Linked DNA regions of Homo sapiens: region 2 is linked to region 1. Evidence: fine-mapped expression QTL. Tissue or cell type: whole blood. Region 1 holds a variant in brackets; the other region holds the start of a gene. All regions are shown on one strand. Distances are from middle to middle.

The links. PIP is the estimated chance that this variant, and not a neighbour inherited with it, causes the effect.
Region 2: it holds the start of SLC41A3, and the variant in region 1 is fine-mapped to the expression of SLC41A3 in whole blood (INTERVAL, PIP above 0.99).

What each region holds. Positions count from the first base shown.
Region 1 is chr3:126,047,385-126,063,899 of GRCh38, reverse strand. It overlaps SLC41A3 (solute carrier family 41 member 3), which reads left to right. Exons shown (of 11, transcript NM_017836.4): 3 at 12,850-12,957. It overlaps LOC124909425 (a long non-coding RNA gene), which reads right to left and starts at 7,079. Exons shown (of 2, transcript XR_007096055.1): 1 at 6,910-7,079; 2 at 5,672-5,982. RefSeq lists an enhancer at 4,569-5,068. The variant C/G (reference allele first, on the strand shown) is at 7,422.
Region 2 is chr3:126,074,300-126,090,814 of GRCh38, reverse strand. SLC41A3 (solute carrier family 41 member 3) reads left to right here and starts at 6,691. Exons shown (of 11, transcript NM_017836.4): 1 at 6,691-6,722. It overlaps ALDH1L1-AS1 (ALDH1L1 antisense RNA 1), which reads right to left and starts at 6,600. Exons shown (of 8, transcript NR_190231.1): 1 at 6,363-6,600. RefSeq lists silencers at 6,344-6,893, 6,934-7,043.

The DNA of each region.
Region 1 (16,515 bases):
TCACCTTGCCACCTGTCACTTCATCGGAGTTGAAGTGAGGGGCCCATGTGCCTCCTGCTAACCCTGGCTGCCTGTGGCCCACCCAGGAAGTAGAGGCTCCACTGGGTGCTTCCTGCAGAGCTGGTGCTCTATATTTCAAGAAGGAAATGAGGGCCTTGGCCACCGTCGGCCATGTCTGAACTTTAGAGAGGATCAGGAGTGACTGGCTGAGGCCTTGTGTGTGGCTGTAGTATATGTGTAGGCATTTGTTACCCTGTTTTATGTTTTGTGTGTCAGTGAGGCAGGAAATTCCCAGAGCTCTCTACCCCCAAGTGGGGCATCTTTGAGGCTCTGGGCCAAGAGCCTGTGCCCAGGTGCAGAGGGAGCTGCCAGCAGGCCAGGGCGCCTATGCTGTTGATTGCCTGATGCTTGGCCACTGCGCTGACCCTTAGAGGTTTGCTCTTTATCAGGGACTTCCTGGTTAAGATGGGAAGCAGCAGCCTTCCCCTGAGCTCCCTTGCATATTACACGGCAGCACCCACCGTGAAGCCTATAGCTCCCACCGTGAATGGCCAGCCCATCTCAAGGGGCCTTGGGTAGCCAAGAGGCCCAGGGAGGGGTGACTCCTCTGGCACCATGGCGTCTGGCAAAGGACTGAGGACAGGGGAGACCACCCCTCCTGCAGGTGGCATATGCCAGAGAGCCCAGGTTTGGCTCCATTCTATTTTTAAGGAGACCTCAGTAGCTGTACTGAGCTTGGGGGTGCCACATGTGAAGGCATAATGGGCAGTGGGAATGGAGGGTCACAGGCACAACGTCTGTGAGAACCTATGCTTCCAGGAGAGCCCAGCATGTGTCCAGCAGCTACTCCTCTGATGGTGCACAGTGCAGGGTGGAGGAGAGCATTTCCCTGGATCCGCAGCCCCTAGACAACTTACGGCCATCAGCCTGTAGACTCCAGGGCTTGAGGGGAGGTTGCTAATGCCCCTCTCTTCCATGAAGGCGTTTCTGGGGGCACTAATAAGAGTAACTGCTGATATTAACTTGGGCAGATCCTAGAACCTTTTGTTGGAGTGGCCTGTTTGAGTTGGCTTGCTTTGCAGATGACAGCATAAATGGGCGTAAGTAAAATTTGTAGATGAGAAATATGTTGCTTCCAAAACCCAAAAAGAACTAAAAGATATTGGAGACTTGTATTAATGTTGTGGATGCTGAGAAGGTTAATACTTCTTTTGTTGCAGTGTTGGGGACGGCTCTCAGTTTACCAAGTAATTTTCAGGCATTTAACCAAGGTGCCAGGCCTCGCACCACATGTAGGGTGATGGCCCCCTCTCTCATTGTGAGTGCCTTTGTGAGTTACTTGTATGCCCTTAATGAGTGTGTCAAAAGAGCCTCTGCGGAGGAGGGCATCATCAGTGTAATGTAACTGTGCTCCTGAGAAAGGCAGATGCAGGGGAGACCTTGGCCGCATGACTGTGTGTGATGGCAGAGCTGCGGAGGTCCCTGTGGGGAGCCTGGAAAAGGTATCTAGTGTCCCTTTAGAGGTGAAGGCCAACTGTGTCTGAGAGGCTGGTGAAATAGGCACTGAACAGAATGTATTAGCCAAGTCTATAGCAGCAAAGTACCAGTTGATTTGGATGGAGTCAGTGATTTCAATAATATTCGGTATTGGATGTGGGGGTCTGAATGGACAGGGTCATGCCATTAAGGTGGTGGTAATCCACCAGGAGGCACCCTTTTGTTCTCCCCAGGTTTAGGAATGAGCCATATTGGCCTGTGTAAAGGAGAAGCAGGAGGATTGACATACCCTGTTTAAGTCTCACATAATAAATTTCCCTCCTTGAAGGTCCTGTTGTAATTTGCATTGGGTAGTATTAACTGTTTTAATGGTGAGCAGGGGAGGGTCTGTGGAGTCTCATCTTGTCAAGCCAATTTGTAAGTCAGACCAGGTGGCAGGAGTGCCAGGGAGCACCCACCAGCCCCACACCAGCCTGTAGTCAGTTAACAGTGGTTCTCGTCATGGGGGCGAAAATAACCCTTTAGGGTGGGAGGAGATGACAGAGCCCAAGAGAGACAGCAGAGGTTCAAGCCAGCAATTTGCAGTTGCATCCCAACTGGCTGTGTGGGCTTGTTAGCAAGCAAAGAACAGGCAGGGAGAGCTGGCCAGGTGTCCTCAGTCACGGTGGGCCCATCTGTTTGTGAGCCTGTTGTTATGGTCACCTCCTCTTCACCTCATCAATGAGGGAGGGGGTCTCACCCTTGGGTTAAGGGTATGGTGGACCCTTGACACCCAGCCCTGGACAGGTGAGGGCCACAGCAGTTCGTTCATTCATTCATTCATTCACTCATTCAGGCAGCATATACTGTGTACCTGTGCCAGGCAGACACCCCTGCCCTCATGCCGCTCACACAGCAGGTTCTGGGGTCAACGTTGATAGCAATGAGGGCTGTGTGCTCCAGCAAGTGGTGGGAGCGGCCCTGCGGAGGGAGGCCAAGAAGATCCCCCTTCCCCAGGAGGAGGTGTTGCAGGGGAGGCAAGAGAGGCTGCTTGGAGACAGTGTGGGAGCAGGCCAGCCTGGCAGGGGGTGGACAAGTCTTTCATCTTCACCTGTGGGTGGGTTCTGCCAGTCGAGATCAGAAGCAGAAAATAAAGAAGAACCTTAACAGTTATTTAAAATTTAATTGGCCTGATCTGTGAGACCTGAACAAGATGGGGGAAGAATTCATGCCTGTAAGAATGACCATCTGGCCCAGAACCTGCCGAGGGTCAAGGTGACCCTGAGAAATGAATTGGATGCTGCGTTGGAAACTGCTCCTGGTAAACAAGCAGTTCCCACTGCAGTGTCAGAAATGTACTCCAGAGCCCCTGCCCACACTCTGTGGACCCTCCCCTAAAAACACACCCCAGTAAGAACGAGGTGGTGGGCAGAGATCAGTGGTCCTCAACGTTCTGATCCTGTGGTCTTTGTGGAGCCTGGGCGGCCTGTTGCAGAAGCTCCTCAGGTGGTCCTGGTGCCCCTGATGGGTGAGCACCACTGATCTTGTGCCACTTGCTCATGCTGTGGGCTGTGGGGTGGGTTGGAGGCCCAGAGAAGGTCACACAGAAACCGCTGGACCCGGCTTCCACCTGCTGCTCCGTGCAGCTGGAATCTAGTTCAAGCTCTTTGAGATTCTTCTGCTGTGCTACTGAGCTATTTTTAAAACCACACTTTTGATTTTCTGGATTATAACCCAGTGAGCTGTGTTGACATGTTTTCTTCTCAGGTTTTCACAGGAAAGTCATTTTTCTTATATAGTTACATTATTTGCTTTTGATAGTTTTTTATTTATAAAAGCAAATAGTCACAATTGTCAGAATAGACAAAAAATTATAAAGATTACTTATGAACCCACCACCCAAAGGCAACTACTGTTAACATTTTGGTATATATCCTTCTGAACGTTTCACTGTGCATGCACGTGTGTGTGTGTGTGTGTGTGTATCCTTCTCACTTTTTTTTTGAGACAGAGTTTTGCTCTTGTTTTCCAGGCTGGAGTGCAATGGCATGATCTCAGCTCACCGCAACCTCCGCCTCCCAGGTTCAAGTGATTCTGGTGCCTCAGCCTCCCGAGTAGCTGGGATTACAGGCATGCGCCACCACGCCCAGCTAATTTTTGTATTATTAGTAGAGACGGGGTTTCTCCATACTGGTCAGGCTGGTCTCGAACTCCCGACCTCAGGTGATCTGCCCGCCTCAGCCTCCCAAAGTGCTGGGATTACAGGCATTAGCCACCGCACCCGGTCTCTCACTCAATTTTTAAACAGATTTGAGAAACATTTTTGTAATGATTTGTAACTACTTGGTCAGACACCTCTTTCTATATGAGAGTCTGCAAATGGTTGTTTATTTCTGCGTCTCCTGTGCTGATGAGGGTGGTTCCAGGATTCACTGTGTATGATTATACGTTGTGTGATGATGTTTGACCACGTCCGAAACTATGATGACACTGTGAGAGGTGGTGACACCTGAAGGAAGTGATCACCTGTTTGGGGGCTGCTCAGCTGTATGCCTTGGGAATGTGCATCCCACAACAGGCCTTGAGCAGCCAGGGAAACTAGGCCAGCCTTAAAGACAGAGGACTCTGTCTTTAACCAGGTGATGCCTTTAAACCAGTAACCTTCTGCAACACTTCTCTCAGAATCAGGCCATTTCTCTCTGCCTCCTGCCGGTTCAATCTCCTGTTTGAACAAACTGATCCTAACCATGGATGACGGGCAGTGATGGGGTTGGCAGGCAGCCCAGAAGCTGAGGGTCTCGGCCTGCCTTTGACACTAACTTGCTGTGTGATCTTGGGAAACTGTTCATTTTCTTCATTTGCAAAACAGAATGCTATAGTTCCTGTGAACATCCCAGGGCTGTTGTGAAAATGATAGAATGTGAGAGAGCTCTGAGAAATACAGAGTGCTGCACAAGGGAACAAATGGGCACTCCTTCATCCAATTGCAGTGACTGAGTGTTACGGGCATTCCTTCATTCATTTGCAGTGACTGTTTGCGTGTGGCCGAGTCTGCTCTGTGCCCTTGTTATGCCCTGGGTTTGCTTCAGAGCACTTATCACAGATCATCCTTCCTTTCTTTCTTTCTTTCTTTCTTTCTTTCTTTCTTTCTTTCTTTCTTCTTTCTTTCTTTCTTTCTTTCTTTCTTTCTCTTTCTTTCTTTTTTGACTGATAACCTGTGTTTGTTCTGCTCGCAGTGTACCCTGGCATTTAGGGCGGAGGCTGGCAATTACTAGGCCCTAAGTACTGATCTGTGGAATGGAGCCATGGAGAAGCCCCAAGATTGCAGCAGTGAGAAGGGCTCTGTTCTCAGGAGGGGTGCGTGCCAGGGAGGGAGAGCAGATACACCTGCATTTTATGCTTCTGTTATGCAAAAGTGGGACCTGTCTTCAGGAAGGTTCAGAGAGTACGTTGGGAATTCTGGGGAAAGAGCTGTTAGGCTCTGGCTGAGAGGAGGTGCCTCAGCTGGCCATGAGGCCTGGCAGACGTTTGGCCTGGGTGATGTGTTGGCCTGCAGCAGAGGGGAGGAGCACGGGCATGGCCCCCGTGAGGGTCATGAGAAGTTCTGTCTGCAGCTGCAGCATATGACCATGTACTTGCAAGAAGGAGGCTCACGTGGATGTGTCTTTCCAGATTGCAAGGGGTCCGGATGCTCCTTTCTCAGGCAGTGTGTTGACCACACACTGTGTGAGCAAGGGCCATCCTCACAGTGCACCTGTGGGTTGTGCCTGTGAAGAGCACACAGTGGTTTTGTGAGGAGACAGATTAGAGGGACAAAGGGCCGTGGTGAAGGCAGCGTCTGTGGGCAGGAGTGGGGGACAGCTGTGGGAGAGGTGTGGGGACAGGCAGAGTGGATGTGGGACTGAGATGGTAGGGGCTCCGAGTGAGGCTTGCATTTCTGGCTGCACCTTTCCTTGAGGCAGGCCACTTGGGAGAGGCAGGCTTGGAAGTGGCAGTCCTGAGAGACTGGTGGAGTGAGATACATGCTCATCCCTACCAGAGCCTGGGTATATGATCTGAAAGCTCAGAGGAGAGGTCTGGGCTGTGAGAGGTTTGGGAGTTGCTACATCTGAAATAGCGAGATCACGGATGAGGAAGAGATTCCCCAAATGCAGTTAACTACGGCTATGTAACGAAGGACACCCAAGCTTAGCAGTTTGTTTAAAGCCAATTATTGTTTGATGCGGAATCTACAGGTTGGGCAGGGCCCGGTGAGAAGAACCGCCTGCTCTGCGTGCGTGGTGGCTGTTGGGCCAGCCCAAGACGGCCCACTCATGTGCAAGGCTGGGCTGTGAGCAGGACCCTGGCATACGGCCTCTATGTGTGACCACGTGGTCTTCCTCACAGCAGAGTGGCTGGGAGCATGAGCAGCCCAAGAGATAGGACATAGAAGTTGTCAGTTTCTTAAGATCCATGCCTAGAAACTGACTACCACAGCGTCTCTTCCACTTTGTTCTCTCGGTTAAGCTGTGGGGACAGAGGGAAGAGGGGGTCAGAAACTCTAGCTCTCAGTGGGAATTGTGCTGGAGTTTAGGGCCAGTTATGCATTGCTCCTATGAGGGGCTTAAAAATATCTGTTGAATGAATGAGTAAATGAAGGGTGTGCACAAAGACGCAGTGCAAGAAATATTGGGGGCACGAGGGGAACAGGTGCTGGAGAAATTCGTCTGGAGTTCGGTTGCAGGGACAGCCTTGGGGAGGCCGGTAGGATCCACACTGGGGAGGGCAGTGGACTCCAGGCTGGGGTCTGCACTTAAGCCTGGGATAGTCCGACGGGAGAACCAGGTAACGTGCCCACTAGGGCGACAGTTTAGGGATGGGAGTGGAAGTGAGGCCTAGACCCGACCACAGTGCTGGGTTCAGCTGGTGTGAGTCTGACCCCCAGCTTCGGGCTTCTGCCTGCCCCAGCCTGCCCTCAGGCCTGAACATTCTGTTCCTGGTGCCTGTGGAATGCGCAGAGGACACACCCAACAACAGAACCCCAGGAGTCAGAGGTGGCTTCCCAGCCCCTTCTCCTTCTCTGGGTGAGGAGGGGTCAGCAGGGCCAGTCTGACATTTGTAGCTGAAGAAAGCGAGGCCACTTTGGAAGCATGTTTATGAGTCTTCCAGGCCATGGAGGGAGAACAGGCCTGCGTTTTTTTCTGTGAACACAGCTTCCTGTGGCCATGAACCCCCTGGCTGGACACAACTTGAGATGACCCAGGGCGTGGCTTCCTGCTTGGGGACCCATAGACTGCTTGACCTTGAGGAATAAAACTCGAGGTCTGTAGAGCTGGCCTGAGGAGGCAGTCCCTCTGTGCTGATCTCTCCCCAGGCCCTCCTCTGCCAGGAGGGGAACAGCCCAGCACACTTGTACAGGGCGAGGTGGCAGCAGACCTCCGTGTGGGCACTCACCAAGGCCAGGCACCACGTGGGCTTCAGCTCTGTCCAGCCCAAGCCAGTATGGACCAGCCTGCTGGGCTGCTGATTGCTGTCAAGGCCGGTGCAGAGGGACCATGAGCCTCCATGGCAGACTGGCAGAGGGAGGTCCCGGCGGACACACAGCCACTGTCTGAGGAGAGCCTGACCTTCAGGGAGGGACAGCAGGGCCTGGCAGAGTCTCTGTAATGAGGCCGTGAGTCACACTGGCCTTTGTTCCTCACTCATCTGTGCTGGCCCTCAGCCGAGGGGCTGTTGGGGAACTCTCTGCAGGCACAGGGCACCTGGTGACTGGGAAGCTTCTGTTTGTGTGGACTTCTTGGGAACAGCGTCCTGGTGTGGGCCAGGAGGAGAGGACTGGAGCACCCCAGGCTCTGACTTCGTGCTCCTGGGATCGTGGTGCATTGCCTGGCCATGGTGGTCACCCAGCTGAATCTGGAGTTTTGCTTTCAGGGCAAGAAGCTGCGAGGCTTCAGCTGTGAGCTTAC[C/G]CGGTCCCCACATGGGGTCTTGCCTGAATCTTTCTTCACCATCATGTGCCAGGTCGTGGTGCCCATTCTGCTGTCCGGCTTGTGCATGATGACAGCCGGCCTGGTGATGAACACCATTCAAGTGCGTACTGGGTGTTTGGGGGATCAGGGGTGGGAGACACACAGACTGGGTCTCCTGGCACCACAGACAGGGCAGGCTGGAGACATGAGGGGCCTCTACAGTGGGAGGGCAGCCCTCAACCTGCCCTTGCTGCTTGGGCGTCCCGGGTGTCAGCGAGGCTGGCAGGAGGGACCTCCAACGCTGAGACCTCAGCATTAGAGATTCGCAGAATGATGGAGGTTTGTCAGAACCTTAGCCTGCATGTGCCTCCTCAGCCCAAGGAGCTCAAACCGCCTTCCTCCCAGTGTATGTGGGCTCAGGAGGCAGAGTCTGCCACTCACCAGTGGAGGGGATTTTTAGTCACACTGTTCTGCCTTGATTTCCCCATCTGTAAAATGGGGATAATGAAAGCCCTCACCTCACAGAATTGTGAGGACCAGATGACTGAGTCTGTATGCTGTGGTCCCTGTGGGCAGAGCTGCAGTGTGCCCAGCCCGCAGCATCCTGGCGTGGCCCCTGGTAAAAAAGGACAAGGTTTGCAGCCCTGGGGGTGCAGGTGGGAGGGCCATGGCGGTCTCCCTGCAGTGGAGGCGTGTGCTGAGGGAGATTTGCTTATCACAGTCTGTTTCTCCCCTAGCATGGTTTGGGCAGCGTATTGGAATCATTGAGAGGTTTGTGCTATCTGTCAACTGAAACATTTCGTAGAGTCAGTTTAGAAAAATTGGAAAATACACCCAAGCAATGGAGGAAGGCTGTCCCTTCATCTCTATCACCGCTGCTGTGGACCTTTCAAGACAATTTTCTATGTACATATAAACATATACATATATGGTTTATAGTATGCAGTTTTGCTTTTTGTTTTTTTGAGACAGAGTCTTGCCCTGTCGCCCAGGCTGGAATGCAATGGCGTGATCTCGGCTCACTGCAACCTCCGCCTCCTGGGTTCAAATGATTCTCCTGCCTCAGCTCCCAAGTAGCTGGGATTACAGGTGCCCGCCACCAGGCCCAGCTAATTTTTTTGTATTTTTAGTAGAGACGGGGTTTCACCATGTTGGCCAGGCTGGTCTCGAACTCCTGACCTCGTGATCCACCCACCTCAGCCTCCCAAAGTGCTGGGATTACAGGTGTGAGCCACCGTGCCTGGCCTGCAGTTTTGCTTTTTAATCTGTAAATATAAATTTAAAATTTCAACCCATGAGGACACCCCAAGTAGCATTTCATGTTCCCGAGTGTATGCAGCACCTCCTTCCTAATGGCCACTCAGAGTCTTTCTGTGCCCCTGGGTCCAAGTTGGAGAGGGGCAGTCTGTACCCACCAGGCCACCCAGCCTCCTAATCTGAGCTCACGATGCCTCCCAGGTGGCTTCTGCTTGCTCGTCTCAGTTGATGGGACGCTCATCCCCTTTTGGGGCTGGGGTGGCCTTTTGCATCCTGGCCAGCCCCCCATTAGAAAGCCTGTGCTTCTGTGGGCTTGCAACCTGAATACCCACTTGTTCCCCCAATAGCCTCATCCTAGAGCTGTGCTGAGAGCTTGTCGCTCCTTCCCTGAGACCACCCTGCTGATGCTGGGGAGAGAGACTATTAGGCGTTCCGGAGGGCTGGGCAGGGAGTGGAGGCCACAAGGAGGTGTTTGCCTGTGAAGGAAGAGGGAGCAGTCATTCTTCCTAGGGGCCAGGGGATCTGCAGAGGAGCAGGACAATTTGATTTGGACTTTAAAGGTAATGTAGCAATTTCCAGGATGCCCTGAAAAGACGTGAACATTCCAAGCAGAGGGATTTGTGTGCAAAGATACAGGTGAATGATAGTGTGCATTTGTGGAAAGTGAGAGACAGGGGTGGCCGCTGTCATGGGGACAGTGATACTGGGCAGGAGTGAGGGGCTCTGTCTACTCTGCTCAGAGGGTGTGCCGTGCACTGAGTGTAGCAGGTGTTTGCTTTATGTTAAAATGAGTGTCTTGCTGGTTTTATTGAAGGGTAGCATAGACACGTAGGAGAGCACACAACTGTGCAGCTCCATGGACCACCTCAAGGTACAGGGGCCTTTGCAGCCCCACCTGGGGCATCCTCAGCAGAGCCCCAGCAGAGTCCTCTGTGCTTAGTCATCTCAGCCCCACCTCTGACTCCAGTGCTGTGGGTTTGCGTTGACTGTTCTTGACATATGCCTGTGTGTCTTTGGGGTTCATAGGACTTATGTGTTAGGTATACTCAGGAGAGGAGTTGGCAGTGAAGGGTTACAGGTGGCTGAGTGATGGGGTCATATTTGTGCCACAAAACCCACCCCAGACAGTGGTGTCAAAGATGACCCCGAGGGTGAGGCCGGAGGAGCAGGGGAGAGCTGGGGGACTGTGGGCAGAGTTCAGAGCCCCTCAAGTGCAAGAATCATTATTTCTGATGATTTCAGCCTCCCCAATGACTGATATAGGCATCTTTACAGTGTTGCTGGAGAGGGCGGTGGCAGAATTTAAAAGTTGTGATGACTTGAATGTCAGATTGGGGAAAAGAAGGTGTTGAGTCCTGGCTGGCAGAGCAGGAAGGACACGGGTGGCAAGGAGAAGTTTGGAGATTTGGAGTTTGAGGTGCTTGTGGGGTGTCCAAAGTTCAGCCAGAGTTGGATGGGCAGATCTGATGCTCACAGAGACTTCTGAGTCATAGACACTGGGAGGCACCCACACAAGCCCAGGGTATCAGTCAGTGTATTTGCTATTGGCTGCAGGTAACAGGAAACCTAACTCAAAGGGACTTTAAAAACAAAGACACTGATTATCTCTGTAAAGAAGTCTAGAGATAGGACAGTGCCAGAATTGGTTAGGTAAAAACAAAGACACTGATTATCTCTGTAAAGAAGTCTAGAGATAGGACAGTGCCAGAATTGGTTAGTTACTGGATTAACAGTGTCACCCAGTATTTTTTCACTTTACATTTGTATTAGTTTGCTAGGACTGCCATCACAAAATACCACAGAGGAGGTAGCTTAAACAATAGAAACTGATTTTTTTCCGCAGTTCCAGAGGCTGGAAGTCTGAGATGAAAGTGTTGGCAGGGTTGGTTTTTGAGCTTTGCAGATGGCCCTGTGTCTTCACATGGTCTCCCCTCTGTGCATGTCTAGGTCCTAATTTCCTCCTCTAATGAGGATGCCACGCATACTGGGCTAGGACCCACCCTCATGACTGCATTTCAACTTAATTATCTCATTAAAGACAGTCTCTCCAAATACAGTCATGTTTTGGTACTAGGCATGAGGACTTCACCATACGAGTTTTGGGGGACACAGTTCAGCCAGTGTCCATAGACTTTAGTCCCGTCACGGTTGTGTGATACCCGATGTGACCAGACAGGACTTCTCAGGTCTCACTGACCAGTCATAGCAACGTCTGGCAAGGAGGATGGGACCACTATGCATCAGGATTCAGCTTCCCCCGCCGTCTTCCGCCCAGGCTTCCTGCTGAAAGCCCCGGGAGCATGGAGCAGGTGGGGTGTCTGCTGGAAGATAGTGCTGTGTGCACAGTGGAAGGGTACTCGAGCTGCGGAAGGGAGAGGGTGTGAGGAGAAAGGAGAACTGAAAAGAAAGCAGGAAGGAAGATCGGTATTAACATGGTCAGGAGGAAGAAGAGGGGCCGAGATGGGGTGGATAGTGAGGTTGGCAAAGGACTGGGGGTGGAGGCCCAGAGGCCAGGGGAGAGGGTACAGAGCTGTGCCTGTCAGCAGGTGCTTTATCCGTGGAGGGGAGGACAGTGCCACCCTGCAGGGAGAGCAGCAGATGGGGCTTACCCATCAGGAGGCCACCACTTCCTTTAGGGAGACGGTGAGAGCCATAGAGTTGCAGCACTGAGGGTGATGGGTGAGAACAGGCACTTGTTCAGAGGTAGTAGTGCTCAGAGAGCAGGAGGAAGGCTGCTGGGTGGCGCAGGCTGAAAGGAGGAGTTTGCTGTGACTTTGGGGTTGGTAGGTGCCGGGTCTTGGGTATAGACAGAGAGAGTGCCCATGAGCACGCTGGGCTCCACAGGACGTTAGGGAGGGTGTGGGTGGTGGTGCCCAAAGGCCAGCTGGGGAGTACTTGATGATGGCCTTGGTTCCCCTGCTGAGGACGGAGGCCCACCCTATGTGGAGGGTGTGCAGGCTGAGAGGACAGCTGCACAGAGCTGTGGCCAGATGCCACCAGGAGACTGTGAGGTGTGGGAGGACACCCTGCCTGGTGGCATTGTTTTCTTCTCAAGTTTTAAGAGAGGGCAAACTCAGAACTCCATCAGAGCTGGAACTGGATTCTGAATTCCACAGCCTGGTAGATAAGGTACAGGAAGAAACTAAACAGTGCTCATCTTCCTTGGTCTGAGAGCAGAAAGGAGTCTTAAAGGGCCTCTGGTCTGATCTCTTCACCTTCACGCCTGGTCAAGCCTGTTGCTGGGCAGCTTATGGATGACTGTCCAAGTCCCTAGGGGCTGGGTGGATTTGCACATCTTTACACAGCTCTTGCCTTGTAGGGGATGGACAGGGCCTAGATCCCAGGCCGCCTTTCTCCTTGATGACGAAGCAGGGATTTGTTTCCAGGTCTAGAATTCCAAAACCAGGAGAAGCTTCTAGTGTTAGGCGTCAAAGATCTCAGCAGCAGCCAGACAGGCAAAATAAATCAGTAGGATCAGGTGGGGCATTAAAACTGATTTAGGGGAACATCTAATTGCACATTAAACAGTTAAGAATTGTTTTCACCTCTGCCAATAAGTGTTTTCTCTTCCATTTTCCTTGAAGCATGAATCCCTTTCATCTGTCTTTGAAGTTATTGATTTTTCTACTTTTAATGGGATAGAGGCATATTCTATCTGTTTTTAAAAACCCTGAGCCCCACAGGGTGCTCAGTGGCAGCAGGCACGCAGTCCCTGGACCTGGGGGCAGAGGGAGGCAGGGCCTGCATGGCCTGTGTGAAGATCGTTGATCCCCGGTAGAGTCAGGGCCCTTCCTCAGCCTGGCCGTCTTGTGGGTGTTTCTAGGCCTCCCCATTCATGAGAAATTCCCATCTTTCTCATCCGGGACCTGTGCATGCCTCTAGAGAACCCATGGTGCAGAGCACATGCAGCATGGCTGCCACCCGCTGGCCTCCAGCCTGGCCCAGCCCCCAGTGTGCTTACGGCCGCTGATACTGATTCAGTTAACAGCACTAAAAGGTTTTCACAGCTTCATTTATTTCTGTTTAGTTTAAAGCCATTTAAGAAAGTACTTAGTCCTATTTGTTCATTTTATAGGGAGTGAAAAGTGACTTGCTGAAGGTTCTCTCAAGAAATTTCCAGAGATTTGCTGATGTGTGTGTTTGGCTTATCTCCTTACTGTTTCCCTACCAGCACTGGCCTGTGTTTGTGGAGGTGAAAGACCTTTTGACATTGGTGCCGCCCCTGGTGGGCCTGAAGGGGAACCTGGAGATGACACTGGCATCCAGACTCTCCACAGCTGTAAGTGGACACCTGGACATTCGAGGCGGCCACAACGTGAGGCAGGCGCGTCCCTACCACCTGGTCTCCCCTGGCTTGTGGGCGGTGGGTTGGATTCTCCAAAACAATGGATATTTCTGGGTTTTGATACCTCATCATGCTGTCCCTTGTCCCTCTCCCAGCCCAATGCCTTGGCTTTCCACTACCAAACTGGATGACTGAGGGATGTGCACAACCCTGTTTGCCCCTGTTCCTCCTTTGACCTAAATGTCAGTGGGTGCCTTGTGCCCCGAGTCTGCACACCGCCCTGCCACCCGCATCCACCTGGACCCTGAGCTCAGCCCCATCACACGTTCACACAGAAGCCACGACAAGCAATGCAGACCTGATGGAGGGTTCCATGGAGGAGACAGGAAGGTTTTGTCACCCAGATTAACCTTTCTCAGTGGCTTCTGCTCCCCAGAATGGCTCCCTGAATGCTTGATCACTGGAGGTGTCTTCTCTGGGCTCTTGAACCAACACAGTTCCTAGCTTTACCAGCTCTTCTCACACCTTCCCAGCTATCCCAGGAGACTGAAGCTTTTTCCCTTCTACTACACAGAATGGTTTCTCCCTTTCTCTGATGCCCATGTGATATCCTGTAGGTGACAAAGACTGTGGCAAGAGGAGGTTGTGGTGTGTTCAAGGATCTGAGAGGACAGCAACGTAGCTATAGAGTAGAGGGCAGGTGGGGTGGGGGCAGGGGGCTGCCGAACATGAGGCTGAAGAGATAGGTGAGGCGCAAGTGGCTGAACAGTGGCCCCAGAGATAACCAGGTCCTGGTCTTGGAACCTGTGGATGTTAACTTATAGGGAAGAGGCCCTTGCAGAGGTGACTAAGAGAAGCCCCTTGGGATGGGAGATTGTCCTGGATTATACAGATAGACCCAGTGTAACCACAGGGGTCCTTATAGAGAGGAACAGAGGGACGTTTCAGACAGGAAAAAAGGCCATGTAGTGGAAGCAGCATAAGAGAGGAAAGATACTGTGCTCCTGGCTTTGACGACAGAGGAAGGGCCATGAGCCAAGAGATGGAGCTCTGTGTGCTGGGAAAGAGAAGGAAACAGATTCTCCCCTAGAGCTTCCAGAGGGAGTGAGGTTTTGATTTTGACCCCATAAGACTCATTTCAGACTCCTGTCCTCTAGAACTATAAGAGGATAGATTTCTTTTGTTTTAAGCCACTAAGTTTGTTACAGCAGCGAGAGGAAACTAACACATGGGGCCAGATCATGTGGAGCCTTGTGGGATGTGGAAATGTCTGAGCAGCTGGTAACATGATACAGCTACACACATGCACACACAACTCATGTATACACATGCATACGTGTGTGCACAATTGTTTTGGTCAGTGTTTGGGAGGGAAAAAAATGTTGATAGTAATCTCTGCCATGGAGGCATTTCAGGTGTTTGTTTCATAGTGTTTAACTGCATTTTTTTTTTGAGACAGTTTTGCTGTGTCACCCAGGCCAGAGTCCAGTGGCATGATCTCAGCTCACTGCAACCCCTGCCTCCTGGGCTCAAGTGATTCTCATGCCTCAGCCTCCCAAGTAGCTGGGATTACAGGTGTGTGCCATCACACCCGGCCAATTTTTGTATTTTTAGCAGAGGCAGGGTTATACCATGTTGGTCAGGCTGGTCTTGAACTCCTGACCTCCAGTGATCTGCCCGCCTCAGCCTCCCAAAGTGCTGGGATTATAGGCATGAGCCACCGTGCCCAGCCCGTAACTACATTTTAAACACTTCTCTACAACGATCGTATCTCAGTGTTTTAATTCTCTTAAAATATGTAAAACATGAGAGGAAGAAAAGAACTATTAATGTAATTCTTGAACTTCCGACCTCGTGATCCACCCGCCTTGGCCTCCCAAAGTGCTGGGATTACAGGCGTGAGCCACCGCGCCTGGCCATATTAATGTAATTCATTACAACAGTCTGTCAAAGGAGAGCAGACACATTATCATAACAGTAGAACCTTCAAAGGTTTTACTTTGTTTTTTTTTTTTAAATCAGTCTTAAGGTATAAATTGATAACAATAAAAACAGAGGGTTTAAGTGTGCAGGTCAATGACTTTTGACGAATACATACACCTGTGTAGCTGTGACCCTAGTTGAGACACAGAACATCTCCATCTCCCTGGAAAGTTCTTGTTGCTGTTGCAGCCCACTCCCCTACTCCATACCGGCCCCCTTTGATCTACCTTCAATCTCCATCTGTTAGTTTTGCCTTCAACTCCCGTATGTGACTTACAAAGATACTCTTAGTGCAACTTGAAACAGAAGAATATTTTATTTATGTTGTTCTGTGTATTCTGGCTAGTATAATAAACTAGGAAAAGAAAGTAAGAGTCTTAAATATTGGAAAGGGAGAGAAAAACTTATTTTATTAGTGATATGCTTGCCTTCTTGGAAAATCTAAGCAAATCACTTAGAAAACTGTAAAACAAATGGTAAAGTAGGCCAGTTTCAAAACATCTAAATGAAATAAAATATATACATGAACATACATAAACATGTCTCTATATACTCCCGTACACACTGGAAATAGTCGTTTATAAGGTATAATTTAAAAAGAGATTCCCTTCAAACTATTAACCAGTTTTTAAGTAGTTTCAGAATAATCCTCAAAACAAAATGGGCAAAACCTATACAAATAAACTACAAAGCTTTATAAAGAGAAATAAAAATTTGGAGAGAGAAGTTCCTGAATGGCAAAAGTCAATGTTGTAAAGTTATCAATTCTCTTTCTTTTAGCTTATAAAATTAATACAAATTTTTCTAATAACTAGTGATGGTGAGCATCTTTTCATGTGCTTATTGGCCGTTTGTATGTCTTCTTTGGAAAACTGTCTATTCAAGTCCTTTGCCCATTTTTTAATTAGTTTTTTTGGTTGTTCTGTTGTTGAGTCGTAGTTCCTTATATATTCTGAATATTAATCTCTTATCAGTATATGCTTTGCAAATACTTTCTCCAGTTCTGTAGGATACCTTTTTGCCTTATGTCCTTTAATGCACAGAAGTTTTTAATTTTCATGTAGTTCATCTATTTTTGCTTTTGTCACCTGTGCTTTTGGTATCATATCCAAGAAATCATTGCCAAATCTAATGCCTTGAAACTTTTTGCCTATGTTTTCTTTTGAGACTTTTGTAGTTTGAATTTTTGTTTAGGTCTTTGATTCATTTAGAGTTTATTTTTGTACATGGTGTAACATAAGCATCCAACTTCATTCTTTTGCATGTGGATATTTCGTTTTCCCAGCTCCATTTTTTTGAAGACTCTCCTTTTCCCATTGAATGTCCGTGGCACCCTTGTCATTTGACCATATATTTAAGGGTTTATTTCCAGGATATTTTATTCCATTGATCTCCATGCCTGTCTTTATACCACACCATTTAGATTACTGTAGCTTTATAATAAGTTTCGAAGTCATGAAGTATGAGACCTCCAACCTTGTTCTTTCTTGAGATTGTTTTGGCTATTCAGGGTCCCTTAAATTCCATAGGAATCTATAAATGTATTTTTCTGTTTCATCAAAATACAGC
Region 2 (16,515 bases), 27 kb before region 1:
CTCACATGCCCCACTCTTCCTCAATAGCTGCTAGGCCTAGAGGGAGGGTGCTTTTATAGTTTCAGCAGCAGAGCATTTGTAGTGAAACAGGTCTGGGCCCAGTGGGATGCTAAACGAGGGACTCATCTCTGGCCTTCAGAATACCATGATTTTGGTTTCCTTGGAAGTAAAACAAGGAGAGAGAAATAACATTTATAGTTTGACAATTATAAGAGTAATTTGTGTGTCAGAACAGAAAAAGGAGCCTATTCAATTAGGGCACCAATTAAAAATATGAAGAAAAATTATAACCTGGTACTCTCTATAGGATTATTGTAGCCAAGAAATAATTCATGATTTAATCTACACTTTAAAAAACAAAAATTATGGTCAAAATCTACTGCCAAGTGTTACACTTTTCCTTTAAAACCATTTTTTAGCTCCTTTCTTTTCTACTAAAGAGAAATTATAGTAAGACCAATTTCTGTGTAAAGTAAGTTCTAGGCTCATTATACTTGTCCTGATTATTTGCATAAAATTCAGCAAAAATTGATTAGCCACATAGGCTCCTTCTAAGTTGGCTTTGCTGGAACTTTACCTAAAAATATACTATTTTAGTTAAAGTCTTTGTACATTAACCATTGTCTCCAACTGTTCTGTTTTAAAAGACTTTTATTGAACTTACACAAATAACTATATTGTCATAAAACCACAATCCAGATTTTGGAGAACTTAGAGAGAAAGGTACATTTGCTTAAAAAACATACTTCACTCAAATAACTAAAAAAAAAAAAAAAAAAAAAAAAAGATTTTCTTGACCTTCTTTAACTAGAGCAGCATCTTTTAAATGAGATGTCTATTTACCTCGGAAATACCATTCACAAGCCAAGCAGCTCATGAGAGCTGTCTATCAGGCACTGTGGAATCCAGCAACTCCTCCCAGAGTTAGAATTAGTCCTAAGAAAGGGCTCCTTGTTTATCAGTATCTCCTCCTTATATTCCCAGGTAGCAAGATTCTATGTAAACCATTTTTATTTTATTATGGAACTCTTTTGGGCACCATTGTTTCCATTAACATAGGGATAGCTTCAATTAACATTCCAGATTAAGGCAGTAAATGGCCCTCAACTGGAAATTCTCTAGTTTAGTTTTTGTCATTGGGAAGTACTCAGTCTTTTGCCATCAGCCCCAGTAAATGTTCCACAAACGATATGAAGTGGAGGATTTGTCCTGACTAGTATTCCAGCTTCTACCCTATAGTATGTGGGTTCAGAAAACCTTACTAGTTCCCATTTGGTGTGTCCAATTTCTCAAAAGAGCAGATTTACATGCCCTTAGTTTTATAGCACTAGAAAGGGGAAACATCCCTCAGTCAAATGCAGTACCCATTTTCATAAGACATTTAGGTAAAAGGTGTTACAACTACCTTACATAAAGTTTGTTTAAACATCTTACATTTCATTATTTTATTAACCTGTATGTTTTTATGTCCTGGTCCCAGGAACCTTTTTCTACCCCAAGACCATTTTACCTTTTCTGGTGAAAAAAGGTTTGGGTTCCTAGCAGCAAGCTGCATCTGCAAAACTCATGAGGGATAGCAAATTTGATAAGGCTTCTCAAGCAGTCGTTATGATTCTGTGGGAGGGGCAACCATGTAAAAGGGACCCCCTCAACCCCCAAATTTACCATGACTTCGGTAATAGGCATATTTGGTGGAAGGATATACCAGTTATCCTAAATCCAGTTATATGGCTTGCACATGAAGCATATTAACTGCTTCATCTGAGGTGCTTGTTTCACTTGGTATTTTATACAGAGAGCTGGGCAGTCCCCTTCTCAGGGCAACCAGACATTATGGTGGCATTTATCTGGTCCACTAGACTAACTGTTCTCTCAGGAATGACCTCTTCTGCATTTGGATCATATATACTCATTAGTGATTGTTCAATAGTGAGCTGTGGGGTGCTGCATCAACCCAAACAAGCTCTTAATTTCTGTAGCATTTAAAATTAAGGATTTTGTCCTTAAAGTGGTTATTTTTACAATCCGCTATACATTTTTTTAAGAAGCTGATGATACAAATCTACAAAATGAAACAATTTCTTTATATTATACCCTCTGGTTTTAAATAGTTTTGCCCTTCCCCCACATTGACTATCTTTTTGATAGCCACAGGTCTGAGTTAACTTTTGTTGCTCTGGCTTAATTGTTCTATTTAGTTTTATCTGTATATATTTTTTTCTTCATTCTAAAGCAACTCTTAAGTAGTTTTTTAACTAGCGAAGAAAAACCTACTTTCCTTTTCTGGCAAAATCAACATCCTTGTGTTTTATAAACTTCACCAAAAACATATTTTATGCTCCTATTTTAACTTTTAGTAATTCAAAATTTCCAGTGATAAAAACTGAGGTTTTAACATGACTTTAAGATTTTAAATTACTAGAGAGTTTTGAGATTAAATTTGCCAAATTACTTTTACCAAAGATTACCAAGATCATGTGAATTAAAAGTCATCTGAGCTAGCATCTACCAATCTGATAAGCACTTACATTTTTAAAGTTACTAGGTTAGAGCTCTTTCATGTAGTTTGGTAGTGAAATATCACTTCCACATGACACAGATAAAGATATAACAGGCATGCAGAATTAAAAGGTCTACAAGATCTAATTTTATTGGCCTGTTTTCAAAAAAAAATTATCTCCCTTCAGATAATTTTGTTAATTATCCTATAACTATTATTAAGTTACAGGAACCAACAAAAGGTGAAGGAGAGATCTATTATCTAAGGCCATTTCAAAAGAGAAAGAGCTGAGCTTGTGAGATATCAATCTGCAGAATGTCAAAGAGACAGATTATAGAGTTTATAAATTTAAAACTTATTACATTAAAAATAAGTCAATATTTGTAATAAAATACTGTTTTAGCCAATTATTTAGTTTTGTATTAGTGTATTTTTTAAATATCAAAGACCCATCTCTAGAAAGACTACTATAATTTCTTCTTAATCATAGCCAACTGCATTATACAATCTTTTTTTTTTTAAACAAATTCCTTTTACTAACCTTATTACAACTTACATAGACCATTCACAACATGCTTAAATTTTCTGTTCTGTCCTAAATATCTTTCTTGAACAACCTAGTCATTTTATTTTAGGACAAAAATTCGCTACACAAGATTCTTTCTTATATAGTATCACTTTCCTTTTTACCTTCTTTACCAAAAATTACCTCTTTATGTCTTATGTTTCTCTACATCTCTTATTTCCTAGTTCCTTTTACCTTGTTTTATACATAACCTTTAAATAAGCTTTGAATTAGAAAAAGATATTTACCATTTAAAAAAAAGTTTTTCTATAATTTTTAAATTGGAAATTACCCAGATACTTAATACTTATTAATAACCTGAGGTCCTAAATTATATGACGTTTGTTTACAAACACTTATTCCATTACCTTTACCTGATTAATTTATTTGTTTACCTGGATTATTAACAAAAACTGTGACAGTCATTATTGAAGTTATTTCCCTGTTAACCATTTTTATAGCTGTGAATTTCAGGTGTTTACTTCAATAATGAACTTATGATTAAATATAAGAGTATTTTTTCCAGTAACTCATGATTTAGCTGTTTTCATTAAACCAACCATATTCCATGTCTTATTTATCAAAAATTATACAAGCAAAGATCATTCTGTCTTGGGCTGGGTTTTATAGTTTTATAACCCTATGGCTAATCTTATAGTATTCTGAAGGAATAAGCATGAAGCTACTTGATCAATAAATGCAAACAAAAATACTAACAATTCTTAGAACATTTTAATTTTTTTTACCAATGATTTTAAAGACAGTTTATTTATTAAATATTTTACTTGTCACGTGAACTTGAAAAGCATTGATTAGTATTTTTTGATCAAGTATTTAAGTGCTTTTATTTTTACTTAAGCTAATTAGAGCTCTTTTACATATTTTTAGTAGTGACACATTGTGTACACAACACATAAATGCATAGCGTATTAGGCATGGCAATAGAAGTACATCTTATGTATTTGTAAGACCTCTTTTTCCCTTAGACTTTTAAATTCATGATAGCCTGTTTCATCACCCTGGGCAGTTGTCAGCTAAATAGTCCTACATTTGCATATTAAAGGAAACAACTCTTAGGTGAAAAATCAGATAGCAAAATTTACATCTCAAAGTACCAAGAGACAGTCTGGTTTGCTAGAGGGAAATTAAAATGGATTTAATTTGCCATTTAAACAAAATTATAGAAGTCTATTATAAAATCCTTTTAAATACACACACACACACACACACACACACACACACACACACACAGATCCTATAGCTTTTACTTCAGAACTTTAGCCATGAGATAAATACAAATTCCCCAGCTTGCAAAAAAAAAAAAAAAAAAAAAAAAAAAAACAAGAAAACAAAGAAAAAGAAAAATAGGTTAGATCCAAACAGTGGTTTTTAATTTCAGTACAAAAGTAAAAGCAGATTTAAAGCAGGCAGAAAATATAGAGAAGAAGAGAACTTAGGAACTCTATAGTGTACAGGTTGACCTTAGGGCTCTTTTCCTTAATGTAAATGTGCACAAGGATCATTATATTTCCATTTTACATAAGCTCTGGCAAGTAGACGCACCATAAAACCAACAGAGTGCCCGAAATGAGGTCATTCTCCTTGTTTTCTCCTCATTCTTAGATCATTTGTTTCCCACCTTTTTTTTTCTTAGAAGTAGGAACTGAGCTGTGGCCTAGGGTTTTTGTGTGGTGGATCAATGTGTGCTGCTTGTGGGCAGGACCCCACCATGTGTCACCACTGAGTTGTTTCCACCCTGTTACATGTCTCAGTTTCTCTCTCCAGAGGTCTATTACCTTTGAGAGGGCTCAAAATGATGGGTGATCAGTCCTTATATGCATTCCTGGACAAGCCATTTTTAAAATTAATTTTTGTTGGGGATTTCCCCATAGGGCTGCTGCATGTCACAGGATGTCAACCCCCCCCCAGACACTCCCACAAGGCCCCCAGTCACCCAGGAGCACGTTTTGGCTGGGAGGAGCAAATGCCTTTCTCTTTGGAGTTGAGAAAACTCAGTCTCTCATTTACCTATGAAAACAACAGTTCAATTCCTCACACAAATGCGCAGACAAGCCGAATCAAGATTAATTTTGGGAGAAAAAGCAATAAAGAAAACCCTTTAGAATGTGTCTCTGAACTAGAATTAGAATCCTTAAACAACAACTTCCTAGGAGAAAAACCAGCTCACACTAAACGAAGGACTGTCAACCAAAGGGCGATCTGGGGCTCAGGAGAACTTAACCAGTTCCATCGGGGGAGAAGCTAGAAGTCTGGGAGGCTTCAATGGGCCCCACTGGTATCTTCGCTCCGAGTTCAGGCAACTCCTTTGGGGTCCTGAGTCTTCTCTGAGGCCCCACGCTGGGTGCCAAATTATTGTGGAAGAGTCAAACTCTGTAAAATATTTGAAGAGATTTATTGTGAGCCAAATATGAGTGACCACAGCCAGTGACACAGCCTTCAGGAGGTCTTGAGAACATGTGCCCAAGGAGGTCGGGGTGCAGCTTGGTTTAATACATTCTGAGGAGGCATGAGACTTCAAGTTAAGTTCATTTAAGAAATAAATTTGTTTGATCCAGAAAGGCAGGAAAACTCAAAGAGGGGGAGGGTGGTTCTAGGGTATAGGTCAACTTAAACATTTTCTGGTTGACAATTGGTTGAGTTTGTCCAAAGACCTGGGATTAAAGAAAGGAATGTCTGGGTTAAGAGGTTGTGGAGACCAATGTGTTTTATCACGCAGATGAAGTATTCGGATAGGGTAGCAGGCTTCAGAGAGAAGAGGCTGTAAAATGTTTCTTATCAGACTTAAAGTCTGTGTTGATGTTAATGCAGGAGAGGGATAATGAGGCATGTTCGGCCTCCACTTCCCCTTATGGCCTGAACCAGTTTTTCAGGTTAAATTCTAAAAGTCCTGGCTGAGGAAGAAGTCCATTCGGATGATTTGGTGGTTGGGAACGGGGAGGTGCCTTATCATTTATTTTTTGGTTTAAAATATAATGATATATTTTACCAAGTCTTGTGAACCATCAGGCCTCCCTCAGGCCCGGACTGGGAATTGCCAATTTCGTTAGGTGTGACCGTAATACTATGAGAATGTTTAAAAAAATAGGCCTTACTGATTAAACATACTCGAGTATTTAAAGGAGAATTTATCCACTGGGATGCTTTAAAATTACTCTGGGAAAAAAGGGAAAACGAAAGGCATGTGTGGGGTGAAGCACAGACTTGTCGTTGTTGTTTTTAAAGCAAAAGGCGGGTCCCAAGGGAAGTTGGCTGTCGGTGGGTTCCCGTTCTCCGTACCTTTCTACCTTGACAGCTCCATAATAAAACCTGCAGCCGCATAGGCGCCTCTCCCGTAGCGCTCCCGCGGGGGCGCCAGTGGGGCCCCAGCTGCGAGGAGGGCCCGGGCTCGCGAGACTCGGTCCCCCACTTCCGTCCCCGCGATCCCCGGCTCCCAGCCCCCCGGGCCCCCGGCGGGGCTCTGCGCTGCCGGAGCTTGGGCGTCTGCTGCTGTCCCGGAGCGCCAAGTCGTCCGAGGTCCGGCCGCCCGGCCGGGGCGGGGCCAGGGAGGCCCGGCCTTCCCGCTTCCTGCCTGAGCCGCAGGCCCGCCCCTGCGTCCTCCGCCCGCCTCTTTCCCGCCGCCGCCTGGGAGGGGACCCGGTAAGCGCGGCCCTGTTCCGGGCGGGGTTGGGGCGGAAGGTGGGGTCAGCTGGGGCCCAAGGGGGGTCGGGGAGGCGCGCGGGAGAGGGCGCCCGGGAGTGGGTGCGCGGGAGGCGAGTGAGCCGGGCGCCGGGCCCTGGGGGCTCGGCGGGAGGGGGAGTCAGGTGGGGACCGGGATTTGGGGGACTCGGTGGGGGAAAGGCGCGCGGGAGATGAGGTAAACACGAGGGGTCGGAGGGGCGGCCTGGGGCGGGGTGGGGCCATGCCTGGGGTAGGCCACGCCTCGGGGAGGCCGGGAGAGAACCCAGGCGCTGGGGGTCGCGGGGGAGCCGGCCGGTCCTACCCTTAGGTGTCTGAGGCCGCTCCCCACACCGCTGCGGTGTGCATTCAGCGGCCCTGTCTCCTCCTTCCTGGCCTGCTCAGGGCACGGCTCCTGGTTGGATGTCACACGCGTGACTCCTGCAGCGCCCGCGCGCAGGGACCCCTCGCTGCCTCAGCCAGACCTCCCGCCAGCCTCTACCACAGGCTCAGCCCACTGTCCTGGGTGGGCTCGGTGCAAACCTCTGGTGAAGAAAACCTCCTGGGGGTGCCCAGCCGGGAGTCTGTCTCAGAGTCCCACACTCTCTCCATCCAGGAGAGCCGGTGGGATAGGTCTCTTTAAAATCCCGTTATTTATTTGTTTATTTTTTCCTCTTTCTTCCAGTTTTTTCCATATGACTTTAGTGATCAAATCCCACTTTTTTTTAGAAGGCTTTTTTTACACCAGTGGTTTTCAAACTGTGGTCCCAGGACCAGCAGCACTGCCTTTCCTGAGATCTGCTAGAAATGCGGGTTCCCCAGCCCCACCCTGACCTTCTAAATCCTAAACCTTGGGGGTGGGTCCCCATACTTGTCTTTAGCAGGTCCTCCTCGTGGTTCTGACCATTGATCTGAAACCTTAGGGCTTTGAGGAGTCTGAACTGGGGTTGAGGATGGGCCAGGTGCCCTGTGATGATAATGCATGACTCCATTTAATCTTCACAGCCCTACACAGTAGGTAGTATTACCCCATTTCACAGATTAGGCAACAGAGGTACAGAAAGTTTAATTTTTCCAAGGTCACAGACCTAGAAAGGGGAGGAGCTGGGATTCCAACCTTGGGTTCCGGCTCCAGAACATTCCCACTGAGGCGAGGTCCCCTGTGAAGGTGGGGAGGGGTGAAGCCCAGAGGTCCTGGCGGCCTCCCTGCCAGGCAGAAACCATTAGTTCCAGAATCACGACCAGCCAGGTGCGTGGTCAGCAGTGGCCCTGCCTGCCTGCCTTTGGGCGAGCCCTGGTCTGTGTGAGCTGCTGGGTCCAGGTCCCCGGGCAGGATGTGTTCGCACTGGGGTGCTGACGGGGCGCCTAGAGGCCTGGGTCCAAGGCCAACCTCACAGGGTGACACAGGGATGCTTCTGGGTGACAGAGTGTCCGTTTCCTCCTCAGTCTGATGGGGGCGGATACCCCCCAACCCCATGCTGGCAGCTGGGAGGGTGGGCAGCCTCACAGACTCAGGCGTGGCTCTGAACTGTGGCCCCAGGTGGTCCACAACCTGTCCTGCCCAGCCTAGCCCCTTTCAAGGCACAAGGGTCTCTGACCACTGCCCCATAGCAGGGTTTCTCGGCCTCCACACTACTGACATTTGGGGTGGGGCAGTTCTTTGTTTTGGGGGGCTGTCCTGTATCACCCCCTGTCGGGACAACCAAAACCATGTGCAGACATTGCCCAATGTCCTCTGTGGGGACCTTGGAGGCAATGCCTCCACTGGCATCTTCTGGCATCTTGGCTCCTCCCTGGGGCTCTGGGATTAGAGGTTTCCTGGCCCACAGCCCACTTTCCCACAGGAGCCTCCTCCAGCCTGTGCTTGGTTGTTCATCTGCACGAGCTGTCAGTGACACAGGGACATTGGAGCATGTTCTCCTTGCAAACACTCCAACATTCAGGTGGAGCTGAGGGGCCTTTGGCCATGTCCACAGCTGGGAGATCCCCCACCCTGCAAGGGGCACAGAGCAGGTGTGGTGCTGACACCAGCTGGGCCCTGCTCCCGGGTCACCCTGGCCAGGCCTTCCTCTGGCACCATGTGCAGGCACAGTGAGGGTGGACCAGGGCTGGGGCTCTCTAGGTACAGCTGCACACGTGTTCCCAGCATGAATCACGGATCAGGGCTGCGCCAGCACCTGCCGCTCTGGTGTTTGCTGTCACCAAGCACAGTGGCTGCGCACTCTTGGGTTAACCTCCTCAGGCACGCGTGTGAGTGACTCACCAAGACTGTGGCTGAGTGAGGATGTGTGGCCTGGAGTGGTCACTGCCCAGTTGCCTCTGGCAGAGGCAGACCCAGAGCCCTGTGGCTGTGTTCCAGGCCCTTCTCCCCACCCCTTGCCCTAGTGGTGGTGAGGTGAGGTGCATCACACCAGGTTCATTTATTTATATTAAAAAAATTTTATTGACACATAATAGATGTACATATTTTTGAGTTGCCTGTGATAATTTAACACGTTCATGTAACTTGTAAAGATCAAATCAGTGCAATATAGACATCCATCATTTTAGAGATTGGTCTTTTATTCCAGAAACATTTGAATTCTAGCTATTCCGAAATATAAAATAGATTATTGTAAACTATAGTCACTGTATTGATTCATCAAACACGATTTCTTATTTCTTCCATCAAACTGTGTATTTCTAGCCATTAACCATCCTCCCTTTTTCCCCCTGTCCCGCCACAGGCTTTGGTAACCATTGAACTTTCTACCTCCTTGAGATCCCCTCCTTCAGCGCTCACATATGAGTGAGGCCATGTGATGTTTGTCTTTCTGTCCACGGCTTATTTCACTGAATGTAATGACCTCCAGTTCCATCTATATTGTTGCAGATGACAGGATCTCATTCTTCTTTATGGCTGAATAGTACTCCATTGTGTATATGTACCGCATCTTCTTTATCCTTTCATCTGGTATGGAAACTTAGGTTGATCCATATCTTAGCTATTGTGAATAGTGCTGCAAGAAACATGGGGTACAGATATCTCTTCAATATCCTGGTTTCCTTTCTTTTGGATATGTACCCATTAGTGGGATTGCCGGATCATATGGTAGTTCTGTTTTTAGTTTGTTTTTTTTTTTCAGAGATGGAATCTCGCTCTGTTGCCCAGGCTAGAGTGCAGTGGCACAATCTCAGCTCACCACAACCTCCACCTCCTGGGTTCAAGTGACTCTCATGCCTCAGCCTCCCAAGTAGCTGGAACTACAGGCGTGTGTCACCACACCCAGCTAATTTTTTGTATTTTAGTAGAGATGGGGTTTTGGCATGTTGGCCAGGCTGGTCTCAAGCTCCTGGCCTCAAGTTATTCTCCCACCTTGGCCTCCCAAAGTGCTGGGATTACAGGCTTGAGCCACTGCATCTGGCTTGCTTTTAGTTTTTAAAGGAACTTCCATACTGTTCTCCATAGTGGCTGAACTAGTTTACATTCCCACTAACAGTGTACGAGGAACACTTTCTCCACATCCTTACCAGTGTCCATTATTCCCTGTCTTTTTTATAAAAGCCATTTAAAATGGGGTGGGATAATATCTCATTGTGGCTTTGACTTGCATTTCTCTCATGATTAGTGATGTTGAGTACTTTTTGCATATATGTGAGCCATTTATGTCTTCTTTTGAGAAATATCTATTCAGATCTTTTGGCCATATTTTAATTGGATTTTTTTTATATTGAGTTGTTTGAATTCCTGGTACTATATATTCTGGTTATTAATCCCTTGTGAGATGAGTGGTTTCAGATATTTTCTTCCATTCTGTGGGTTATTTTTTCACTTTGTTGTTTCCTTTGCTGTGCAGAAACTTTTTAGCTTGATGTAATCCCATTTGTCTATTTTTGCTTTGGTTGCCTGTGTTTTTGAGGTCTTACACAAAAAGTCTGCCCAGACCAATGTCCTGCAAAATTTCCCCAATATTTTCTACTAGTAGTTTCATGGTTTTAAATCATATAAGCCTTTAATCTGTTTTGATGTGATTTTTTAATATAGTGAGAAATAGGGGTCTAGTTTCATTCTTCTGTATATGGATATCCTGTTTTTCCAGTCCATCTATTGAGGAGACTGTCCTTTCCCCAGAGTATGTTCCTTGTGCATTTGTCAAAAATGAGTTGGCTATAAGTGTGTGGATTTATATCTAGGTTCTCTCTTCTGTCCATTGGCTTATGTGTCTGCCAGTACCATGCTGATTTGGTTACTACAGCTTTGTAGTATATTTTGAAGTCACTATGATGCTTCAAGCTTTATTCTTTTTGCTCAGGATTGCTTTGGCTATTTGGGGTCTATTGTAGTTACATATAAATTTTAGAATTGTTTTTTCTATTTCTGTGAAGAATGACATTGGTATTTTGGTAGTGATTGCATTGAATCTGTAAATTGCGTTGGGTAAAATTGTCATTTTCATTGAAATTCTTCCATTCCTCAAACATAATGTATCTTTCCATCGGCTTTCATTTTTATTTCCCTAACCTCTTCTCAGGTGGCTGTCTAGGCTGCCTTTGTGTTTCTCCAGCTGAGCTCTTGTTCCCATCCTGTGTCAGTTTCTCCATGGTTTTCTCTGTAGGAGTTCTTCATTCTTTTTGCACACTTATCCTTTGTCTCTTGTATTGGGTCCAACTATTTTCTCCTAGGCTTTTGCTTGCTTTTAAATTTTATTTAGAAGTTTTGTCCTACAGAATATTTAAACTTTGATGTAGCTAAATTAATCATTTTTCCCCTTTGGTTTTTGCTTTCTATTGTGTGTGTGTGTGTGTGTGTGTGTGTCCCTTACCCTTAAGGAATTTAAATCCCTGATCGTGTGTGGGTGTGTGTGTGTGTGTGTGTGTGTGTGTTTCCCTTACCTTAAGGAGTTTAAATCCCTGATTTAGGTTCAAATTTTTTTCTGGCTGTCCACTTCCCTGGTTGCTCAGGACATCCAAGCCCTGCCTTTCTGGCAGAGGGAGCTGGGAAAAGTTAACCACCTCTCTTTGTTCCTGTCCATAAGCCTTGGGCGTCTGGGTGCCTGTAGCATTGCTCGGGTGACCACTGGCCTTGGCAAGAACAGTTTGCATCAGGAGAAGAGGAGGGGAGGTGAGAACACACTGTGGGCATGATTCTTTGTATAGTTTTGCCATGAAGAGGAGGAGGGGAATGAAGTGAGAGATAGCTTGACGTCAAGGCTGGGTTTATAGAGGCAGATCCTAGAGCAAGTTTCTGTTCTCATCAGATGATCCCACAGAGGTAGAGGGGAGAAACTGAGGAGGCAGGAGAGAGGGGTTCCTTGTAGGTGCGACCCCTTGAGAGGACCCTGGTAGGGTCCCAGGCCTAGGGGAGACACTGGCCTTTCTGGTGCTCTTTTAATTCTCTGTTTCCTCTTCTGCGTAAAGTGATCGTTAATAGTCTAGCCTTCCCACAGTCCCGTAAGGATTAAAGGAGGTAAAGGCATACTGCATAGGTCATCGGTAGCTGTGTCTGTTATTTTTTGAAAAGATTAGGGATCTGGCATTGCAGGGACCCCATGATCCCCACCCTGTTCTGCCAAGCATCCTTCCTCCTCATGGTTCTGGGGCTTCCACCCAGAGAAGCAGAGTGGGGCCTGGAGAGCCGGCCGATAGCTCAGCTCTGTGTGGTACGGGTTCCTCCCAGTGTGGGCAGGGTCCAAGTCCTCCTCCTCTCCTTTCTTCTCCACTAGCTGTCTCTCCATGATCTCCAGGCTTCCAGTGTGAGCCTGGCTCAGTTTTACCAGCATTGCTACAGAGGATGTGATAGGAATTTAAAGAAAATGGCTGGTCTGGCCTGAGGGGTCAGGCTGGAAGGTTGAGGACGAGAAGGTCATGAGGAAGGTGGAATGGGTTCTGCTGTTAGGACCTAAGGGATGCAGCAGTGGCCTTGCCTAGCCAGGAGAGTGGCCATTCCTGCCTGTGGGAGTGGGGTGGAGAGTTGGAGGGGCCTGGTGTGGTGAGAGGGAGGCATTTTCTGCCCCTGGCATTGGGCCCCTGCAGGTCCTTCAGGGAGGTGGGAGGCAGGTGGGAGTAGGCAGTTCCCATCTCTGTTTATTGCCTCTTGGAGCCACACCGGTGCCGCCTGGGCCCAGGTTCTCTGGGCTGGATGAGGGGCACCGTTCCTGCCACCGAGGGTGCCGCCAACTCGAGATGCCTCCCTGTGCCCTGTCCCCACTGCACATCACAGTCGCCCAGGCCGGCGGCTCCTTTGCTAACTCATCACCTGCTCCATTCAGGCCCCTGAGAAGGAAGCACGGAGGAGGCAAGAGGCGCCATGACTCTCAGCTTCTCCCTGCTGCAAGGCACAGTGTGGGGCACACATCCCTGTTCAGTTCTTCCGTCAGCTCCTCCTGAATCCATAAATTCCTTGGGAAAATGTTTTACCAGCAGTTGGGAGGCATAAGCCTACCACCTCATTCCTTACCTGAAACTGTGATTGACAAGCAAGGATGACAAGCAGGCATGTAGACATTTTACTGAACACGGGCCAGAGATGTATACTTTCTATCAAATAAAATCCAGGATCTAGAACATGGATTAAAAAAAACAGTGAGTGTGTGGGCCTGTGTCTGTGTGGGTAAACATTGGAAGGATATACACTAGACTTGCACTGATTATTTTGGAATAGTGAAATTGTCAGTGATTTTTAAAGTGTTATTTTATTTATTTATTTATTTATTTTTGAGACAGAGTCTTACTCTGTCCCCTAGGCTGGAGTGCAGTGGTGCGATTTCAGCTCACTGCAGCTTCCGCCTCCCAGGTTCAAGTGATTCTCCTGCGTCAGCCTCCTGAGTAACTGGGACTACAGGTGTGCATCACCACACCTGGCTAATTTTTTGTATTTTTTGATAGAGATGAGGTCTCACCATGTTGGCCAAGCTGGTCTCAAACTCCTAGCCTCAAGTGATCCACCTGCCTCTAGCTCCCAAAGTGCTGGTATTACAGGCATGAGCATCGTGCCCAGCCTCGTTATATTATTTTGTATTGTCTAAATTATATTTTTTATTAACACATGTCACTTTTGTAATTGGAAAAATAATCCAGTTATTTTCATTTTGGAAAGGAAAGGAGGCTGAGGTGGTTTATTGATTGTAGAATAGATGAAGAGATTGTGGGGCAGTCATACAGTTCAGTTTTCTACAGCAATAAAATAGATTCGGCAGCATGGCTGAATCTCAGAAATCTAATGTCAACTGAAAGAAACTGGACATGAAAAGAATCCGTGGAGTGTTACTTTGTTGATCTAAATCGCAAAGTAGGCCAAACTCAGCTGTAACACTTAGGGCTGCACACATTGTAAAACTAAAGAAAAAATAAAACAGATCGAGGAATGGTCATCCCCAGAGTGAGGCTAGTATCACCTCGGGTGGGGAGGAATGAGTTGTTATCAGAGAGGGGCTCAGAGTGGAGAGGCTGGTCATGCTTTGCTTCTTGAACTTAGTGGGAGTATAAGTGTGCTTGCTTTAATATTATCTCATAAATGATTCATAATTTTTTTATTGTGATATAAAGTTCATACCATAAAATTCACCCCTTTTAAATGTACAGTTCAGTAGAACAGAAAACTTATATTCACACAAAGACTTGCACATGAATAGTCATAGGAGTATTATTTATAATAGCCCCAAAGTGGAAATAACCCAAATGTCTGTCACTCATTAGTGGGTAAGCAAAATATGATATGTCCATGTAATTGAATATTACCCAGCTGTAAAAAGGAATGAAGTACTGATTCATGTAACAACATGGATGAAGCTTGACAACATTATGTTAGGTGGTATCTTACTGTGGTTTTGATTTGCATTTTTCTAACAATGAAGCTGAGCATCTTTTAATGTTAAGTGAAACCATTGTTTCATGTGCTTATTGGCCATTGTACATCTTTGGAGAAATGTCTGTTTAATTCCTTTGTCATTTAAATTGTCTTTTTATTGTTGAATTGTAAGTATTCTTTATATATTTGGGATACTAAACCCTCATTAGATATAATGATTGGCAAATACTTGCACATTTTGTGGATCGTCTTTACTTTCTTGAGAGTGTTCTTTGAAACACAACTTTCAAATTTTGATGAAATCCAATTTGTCAGTTTTTTCTTTGGTTGCTTGTACTTCAGATATCACATCTAAGAAACTGTTGCCTAATCCAAAGTCCCTGGGATTTACACCTGTATTTCATTCTAAGTGTTTTAGGTAGTTTTAGCTCTTATGTTTAACTCTTTAAGCCATTTTGAGTTAGTTTTTGTATGTGGTTTGAGGTAGGGGTTCAAATTCATTCTTTTGCATGTGATTATTCAGTTGTCCCAGCCCCGTTTATTGAAGACACTACTCTTTCCCCATCCAATGGTTTTTATACCTTTGTCAGAAATCCATTGGCCATAGATGCATGAATTTATTTATAGACTCTCAGTTCTGTTCTGTTAATCTATATTTCTATTCTTTGCCAATACCAAGTTTTACAATAAGTTTTGAAATTAGGAAGTCTGTGTTCTCCAACTTCATTCTTTTTTTTCAGGATTTTCTGTTCCCTTGCATTTCCATTTGCATTTTAGAATCAGCTTGTCATTTTCTCCAGAAAGAAAGAAAGAAGGAAGGGAGGGAGGGAGGGAGAAAGAAAAAAAAAAGACCACTGGAATTTGAATAGGGATTGTATTAAACCTGGAGATCAATGTTTTATAGTTTTCAGGGTACAAGTTTTGGACTTCTTTTGTTAAATTTGTTCTGAAGTTTTCTTCATTTCTTGCATTTCTATTGCAAATGCAATTGTTTTATTTATTTACTTTTAGATTATTCATTATTAGTGTATAAAAATAAAACTGGCCGGATACAGTGGCTCACAGCTGTAATCCTAGCACTTTGGGAGGCTGAGGCAGGAGGATCAGTTGAGCCCAGGAATTTGAGACCAGCCTGGGCAACATAGCAAGACCTCATTTCTACAAAAAATAAAAAACTATAGCCAAGCATGATAGCATATACCTGCAGTCCCAGCTGCTCAGGAGGCTGAGGTGGGAGGATCACCTGAGCTCAGGAGTTTGAGACCAGCCTGGGCAACATAGCAAGACCCTGTCTACAAAAAATAAAATACTAGCCAAGCATGGTGGAATATGCCTGTAGTCCCAGCTGCTCAGGAGGCTGAGGTGGGAGGATCACCTGAGCTCAGGAGTTTGAGACCAGCCTGGGCAACATAGCAAGACCCTGTCTACAAAAAATAAAATAGTAGCTGAGCATGGTGGAATATACCTGTAGCCCCAGCTACGCAGGAAGCTGAGGTGGGAGGATTACTTGAGCCTAGGAAGTTGAGGGTGCAGTGAGCTATGATCGTGCCACTGCACTCCTGCCTAGGTGACAGAGTGAGAGCCTGTCTCAAAACAACAAAAAAAAAACAACAACCAAACAACCCAAAAACCCAAACAACAACAAAACAAAAAAACTGACTTTCGTGTATTGACCTGCGTCCTCCAGTCCTACACCTTGCTGAACTTGTTTACTGGCTGTAATAGTTTGTGTGTATGTGGATCCCTTATGATTTTTTACGTATAAGATTATGTCGTCTGTAAACAGGGATAATTTTACTTCTTCCTTTTCAAGCTGGATACGTCTCATTTCTTTTCCTTGCTGAATTGTGCTGGCTAGAACCTCAGGTACAGTGTTTAATAGAATTGGCAAAAACAGGGATTCTTGTCTTGTTCCTAATCTTAGTGGGAAAACTTTCAGACTCTCGCTAAGTTTGTTAGCTTTGGGTTTCTCACAGATGCCCTTAATCA